Linked DNA regions of Homo sapiens. The protein of the gene in region 2 interacts with the protein of the main gene of each other region in a pairwise test. Each region holds a gene or a part of one and is shown on either strand. Other genes may lie near its edges.

Evidence for each region. The genes of interacting proteins can lie anywhere in the genome.
Region 1: the proteins of PSMB1 (region 2) and UBASH3B interact in binary tests that used the Homo sapiens proteins (3 or more experiments, as listed by UniProt).

Annotation. Positions count from the first base shown.
Region 1 is NC_000011.10:122,781,222-122,784,721, reverse strand, and holds part of UBASH3B (ubiquitin-associated and SH3 domain-containing protein B), read right to left. Parts: intron 1,670-3,500; coding exon 1,500-1,669; intron 1-1,499. UniProt on the Homo sapiens protein: Interferes with CBL-mediated down-regulation and degradation of receptor-type tyrosine kinases. Promotes accumulation of activated target receptors, such as T-cell receptors and EGFR, on the cell surface.
Region 2 is NC_000006.12:170,536,308-170,539,807, reverse strand, and holds part of PSMB1 (proteasome subunit beta type-1), read left to right. Parts: intron 1-2,467; coding exon 2,468-2,574; intron 2,575-3,500. UniProt on the Homo sapiens protein: Non-catalytic component of the 20S core proteasome complex involved in the proteolytic degradation of most intracellular proteins. This complex plays numerous essential roles within the cell by associating with different regulatory particles.

The DNA of each region.
Region 1 (3,500 bases), on a different chromosome or scaffold from region 2:
CCAAAACAATGAGCTTGCCTGCTCCCAGCCCTGGGGTTCTAACTGTTTTTCATGTTTTGTTTTTTAAAGAAGTCTAAAAGAGATGTTAAAAGGCTATGTAAACTAACAAAAATACCAGTTCTTTGGCTGTTTGAAAAATTGGGAAACAAATATAAGTATTGCTTAATAAATGTAGTTAAGTTGGAAGGCACATTTTTAACAAACGATGAGGTCTTTTGTGGGTGGGTAGAGATACAGTCTCACTATGCTGCCCAGGCTGGTTTGGAACTCCTGGTCTCAAGCAATACTCCTGCCTCAGCCTCCCAAAGTGCTGGGATCATAGGTGACAGCCACCATGCCTGGCTATGATGTAGTTTTGTTTCAGACAGGTTGCCCTTCTTTATTGGTCAAAATACATGGGCTCTTGCTTCATCTCTAGCCCTAAATTACTAAGACACTAATGTTTTTTGTGTCTCAGCTTCTCCTTCAGGATAGAAAAAGACACTATTGGCCAGGTGCTGCGGCTCACGCTTGTAATCCCAGCACTTTGAGACACCGAGGCGTGCAGATCACCTGAGATCAAGACCAGTCTGGCCAACACAGTGAAACCCCGGCACTACTAAAAATACAAAAAATTAGCCCAGTGTGGTGGCGGGTGCCTGTAATCCCAGCTACTAGGGAGGCTGAGGCAGGAGAATCGCTTGAACCCCAGGGGCAGGGGTTGCAGTGAGCCAAGATCGTGCCATTGCACTCCAGCCTGGGCAACAAGGAATGAAACTCCATTTAAAAAAAAAAAAAAAAGGCAATATTATGCTTCCAAGATGTCACATACTTGTCTAGAAGGCAATGTTGATTCCCTCAAAGGAAGGGTGCTAGGGGTGTACCAATCTTTCTTCTTGTGATGGAATTCAGTTTTCTCACTCAGGCCTCCCACTGGGATGTGCAGAAACTCTCACAAGAGGTGACTTGAGTTTTCTTTTCATGTGTGTCTGTTCTCAAAGCTCCTTGAGGACAGGACAACATTTAAAAATTCCAGTATGCTCCATGGTACTTTGCATGATACAGATACACAGCAAATATCTGTTGATTATGTCTTTGCAAGTGTTTTTGTTTTTTGTTTTGTTTTCTTTGGTATTTATATGTTCTTCAACTCACCTAAGGTCAAAATGATGTCTTCCATTAACACCATAAATTTATATAATATTAAAAATTTTCCAATATATTTTTTATTTATTCTCTCCCATTTCATTTCTTTTTTGCTGGAGTTGGATTGGCAGGGGAGACAGAACTAGGGGGATGTTACCCAGATGAACCACTTGTGACCCAGAGAGGAGGGAGGCAAGCTGGAAGCCTCCCAGTGAGGCAAGCAGAGGCTGGACACAATCCTGAGCCAACGGACTCTCTGTTAGGTGCTTGCTCCATTTTTCCCCTGTAGGTACCCATCTCCCTGCAGCAGCGAGCTGCTGATTCTGATTGCATCCCTGCACCTGGTAGCTTCTGGAACCACAGTGAGACATTACCTCATGGTTAGCAAATCGGATATCCCGAGAAAATATGGTAGCCACCCAGTCACACCCTAGCTTGACGTCAATGTTCTGGGCCAGTTTCTCTAGGGTGGGTAGGTGGCTGGCTTGGAAGTGGTAAGCCAGGGTCACATGTAGCTGCTTCTTATGAGGTTCCACATGCACTTCTGGAAAAAGGAAGAAAAAGGTCAGTAATTAAAAGGTGGTGATGATAGCAATGGTGAAGACTTAAGGAAAGGCATAGAAAGGTACCCTGAGAAATTCTGCTTCCCACATAACAAAGAAGACAAAAGACGTTTCTCTCCTTCACAGCAGTAGAATAAGGGGGTAAGGGGATGGCAAGAGATTCCGAATCAAGCCACTGTTCAAGAGATAGCCACCATACGGCTTTCCTCTAGGAGCTGCGGGTCAGCTGAGGGCAGTCCTTTTAGTTAAGTCCTTCTCACAACATTCCAGTTGGTGGTCACCAGCCCCACCTTTCAGAAGAGGGCACTATGACCTACAGTGATGAAATAATTTGTGTAGAAATACAAAGCATGTTTTATAGCTGCGTGACTCCCAAAGCTCTATTCCCTTCATTTTGGAATCACGTGTCTTAGCTTCTGGGTGAGATTGATGGAGAAATGAGGGGAAAAGATGGATATTTTCAAAGTTTAATGCAGGGTTTCTCTCAACAGCATTTTGGGTTGAATAATTATTTTTTGGGGGGGGTGGCTGTCCTGTGCATGATGGGGTGTTTCGCAGCATCCCTGGCCTCTACCCACAAGACGTCAGCAGCACTCTCCAAGCTGTAACAATTGAAAATGACCTCAGACATTGCCAAATGTACCCTGGGAGACAAAATCACCCTTAGTTGAGACATACTGGTTTAAAGTATACAGACTGTTATTCTAAGATATCCCAAGAGACAAAACAAAACAACCCTACCTATAGGAGGGAATGGCTTTTTTTTCTCTCTCTGGTACTTTTTTTTTTTTTTGAGACAGGGTCTTTCTCTGTTGCCCAGGCTAGAGTTAAGTGGCATGATCATAGCTCACCACAGCCTCCACCTCCTGGGCTCAAGTGATGCTCCCACCTCAGCTTCCTGAGTAGCTGGGACTACAGGTGTGAACCACCATGCCTGGCCTCTTTTGTATTTACAATGAGGGAGAATCATCTACTGTACAAACTAGAATAATGAAGAAGTTGCAACTAGAAGAAATTAGGGAATTTGAGAATTTAAGGAACTTGGTCAAGTCACACAGAGAATTAGTGGCCCAAGATAGAACTAGAAATTGAGCATTTCGGTTTTAAGTACTTTTTCTTTTATACTGCATTGCCTTTCTTTGGTGTAAGCCCCATGAAACAAGGTTTTTGTCTCTCGCTTACACTGTATCCTTACTCAGCATATCATGCAGGTTTTCAGTACTTGTTAAATGAATAAATGCACATGAATGAATCTCCCTTGACCACTTCAAATGGAGGAAGACACTAAATCTACTTGATGATATCTGGTCCTGCCAACAACTGGAGAATACCAAGTTCCAGGGCAAAGACATGGTGGCCGGCTTCCCATGCTGGGTAATAAGGAGCGGGACCAGCTAAGCTGCGCAGGGTCATCCAGTTCTCCACATCCCCACCAGGGGGCCACACAACAGCAGAGAAACGAAGCCGGCCAAGTTCTTCATGACAGCAGGATCTTGGAGAGGAATTGGCTCCACCCGCGTCCCACAGGGAAAGCTGGGGCTTCGACTGCTGCTCACTCAGTATGCACTCCAAGAATCTGTGCGGCCCTGGCTGAGGCTTGCTTTTCTCATTTGTGAAGGATTTGGGTTTTGCGGCTTTGACATTAGTTTTGGTCCTTGTGGGGATTTAGTGGTTCTGACAATAACTACTGTGGGATGAGAGAAAGCCATTTCCTTGAGATTGAGGGATAAGAGCAGGAAATAATTTGCCTCTCAGTTATGCTCTTTCTCTGAAATATTAAGCTCCTATGAAATGTCAGGCTTCACTGAAGTC
Region 2 (3,500 bases):
ATAAACACTATGATGAACATCCTTGTACATACATTTTTGTGTACTTCCCCAATTATGCTTGTCTTGCTAGAATAAACTTCGAGTAGTTGAAGTATTGGGTCAGATAAATTTTTTTTTGTATTTTGTTGAGTATACTCTTTCTGAAGGATACGCCAGTACCCTGAGTACCCGATTTTATATAACCTTCCCAGTATTAGAATTAACACATTTTGAAACATCTTTTTGCCTATTGAACAGTTTATTATTTTCATTTATATATATTCTTGGGCATGTTTTCATATGTTTATTGACTTTATAAATTTCCTCTTTGGAGACTGATTCATATATTAACTGTTGCCCATTTCCTTATTTGCAGGTTAGTTTTCTTCTTACTGATTTTCAAGAACTACATTCGACTGTGTCAAATGTCTGTGATATTATAGATACTCCCAAGAGTGTTATTTGTCTCTTTTGGGTGGTGCCTTTTGCTACACAGAAATTGCTGTGTTTCATACAGTCTAATCTGTCAATCATTTCTTTATGACATTCAGTTTCTTGCCTTGTTAGAAAAACTTCTCCCATCCAAAGCTTAGCTGTATTTCTTTTAAGACTTGTCTGATTTTATTTTTTACATTGAAATGATTGTGCTTTTTGGATTTTACTTTGATGAGGAAAAGCACTTTGTAATCAAGATTCATGCCATTCTACATTTATTTTTGTTTTTATTTATTGATTTTTGCTGTTTTATACTGATTTTACTAGTGTCTCTCTTGCTTCTTCTAGGGGGTCTTTAAAGCTGTGTTCTTGGACATAGCCCACCCTTTCTTTGGTTTATTTTTTTAAATTTGTTGTGTGTGGTTTTCTGAGATTGGTTCCATCCTTGGGTAAAGCTTTTGGGCCTCAGTTTACTTGTGGCCTGTCATCCTCATGAGAGATACAATCATTTTTCTGCCTTTACACCTTACATCTCTTTCTTTTTTTGTATATTGAGGTTAGTGGATTGCCTGCTGTGATCTCATGTCTTGTCCCAAGCTTGCTTCCAGCAAAAATACTTCCCAGTTTCTTAGGTGACCTCAGATGGTGCCTTCTCCACCAGAGAATTCAGTTTACACAATCCTTTTTCTTTTTTTGAGACCAAGTCTCGCTCTGTTGCCCAGGCTGGAGTGCAGTGGCATGATCTCGGCTCACCACAACCTCCGCCTCCTGGGTTCAAGCGATTCTCCTGCCTCAGCCTCCCAAGTAGTTGGGAATAGAGGCACGTGCCACCATGCTCAGCTAATTTTTGTATTTTTAGTAGAGATGGGGTTTCACTGTGTTGGCCAGGCTGATCTCGAACTCCTGACCTCGTGATCGGCCCACCTCAGCCTCCCAGAGTGCTGGGATTACAGGCGTGAGCCACCGCGCCTGGCCAAGTTTACGCAGTTCTATAGTAGAAAACATACAAAGCTAACAGTGGCAGTTGTACATGGTTAGTAAGGAGATTGTCCCTATATCACATCTCCCAGGGTACTGAGTTCTGGTATATAATGTGTTTTCTAAATCAGTTATGTTTTTAAAAAATCATACCTTGTAAATGACTCGTGATTTCTCATACCCAGAACACGGTTGTTTTTAACAGGCCTTTTTAACGATTGTAGAATCACCTGTGTTCTTTGTAACAAACTCAAATAAGATAGAAGCACATGAATTAATTCCCTTCTTTTCTTGCCTCTAATTCAGAGCTCAAAGATGACCAGCCACAGTTACTTATCTTTCCAGACTTTTTTGTGCTTGTACAAATAGTTTTCTTATTCTTTTAAACAAAAGCAGTATCGTATTTTACAGGTTACAGAATTCTCTTCGTTTTACTGTGTCTTGCGGATGTGTCCCTTGGACCTGTCTATATACATAAGTCGTGCTTTCCTTCAAGTTCTCCTCTTCGTTAGCTTAGGAGAGCCAAGAAATAAAGACTTTCTTACAAATGACTGTTTGAGTTTGGCTGATGTGTCCTACAGAAACCTCACCATCTCTCTCTGTGTTCTCCCTACTCTCTTACGGGTCCTTACCTACTACCATGGCTTGGATTATTTTTGTGTATTCTCATGGCTTCCAACTGTTTTACATCTGCAGTGGTTAATTCTCTTGTCATCTTTACCTGAAGATCATAAAAATGCCTTTCTCCCTCTTACCCACCCTTTCTGTGTTACTCAATATTGTATTTTAACTCCCAAGCCTACAGTTTACCCTTGAACAACACACCAACACGGGGATTGGGGCTGTCTGCTGGGTGGCACCTGTGCAATGGTGACTGGGTTCTGGCTGTCACATGTGCAACAGTGTGTGTGCTGCAGCTGTCACCAGTGCAACAGTGGCTGTGTTCCAACTGTTCCCTGAAGTTTTAGCCAAGGTGATAGTCCGTTTTGTGTCACGTTTTGACCTGATTTATTTTTGCGATGATTTGGGATTGTGATTGGATACCATCCTTATGAATACTGTTTTCTTCTTTAAGGAAAGGGGGCTGTATACAGCTTTGATCCAGTAGGGTCTTACCAGAGAGACTCCTTCAAGGCTGGAGGCTCAGCAAGTGCCATGCTACAGCCCCTGCTTGACAACCAGGTAATGATACTGTGTCCAGGTAATGATACTATGTCCAACTTGTCATGGTGTTCAGTTGAAGTGCCTTCCTCCAAGTTCTCCTCTTCATTAGCTTAGGAGAGCCAAGATATAAAGACTTTCTTATAAATTACTGTTTGAGTTTGGCAGACGTGTCCTACAGAAACCTCATGGTCTCTCTCTGTGTTCTGCCTACTCTCTTGTGGGTCCTTACCTACTCCCATGGTTTTGATTGTTTTCCTGTATTCTCATGGCTTCCAACTCTTTTATGTCTGTAGTGGCTAATTCTCTTGCTGTCTTTACCTGAAGATCATAAAAATGCCTTTTTCCCTCTTACCCCCCCTTTCTGTGTTACCCAATACTGTACTTGAACTCCCAAGCATACAGTTGAGCCTTGAACAACACGGGGATTGGGGCGCCAGTTCCCCGAGCACTGGAAAATCCACATATAACTTTCGACTCCAAGAAAACTTACAAATAAGCCTACTGTTGACTGGAAGCCTTGCCAATAATGTAAACTGTGGATTATCACGTATTTTACATATGTATTATGTGCTGTATTCTTATGATAAATAAACTACAGGAAAGAGAATGTTATTAAGAAAATTATAGGAAGAGAAAATACATTTACAATACTGTATTTGTTGATACTGTAAGTTTACATCATCTGTTTACAAGGAGAATCATCTGTCTGGAGTGGTGGACAACCACAGCTGCAGACCTCAATCTACAGTACATATCAAGCAATTCAGCTTTTTCTTGTGATGTCATAACTTTCCCTGCTTCTTGGGGAGCAGTTCCAGCATCACTAATAGTGCTTTGTTTGGGCCACTTGTTATTTAAGGTTTATAATAATCGCACTAAACACAATGAAAAACAAAGGAGAACATTGAGAGATCACTTTAACTTTTTATAATCAGTTTATGTGT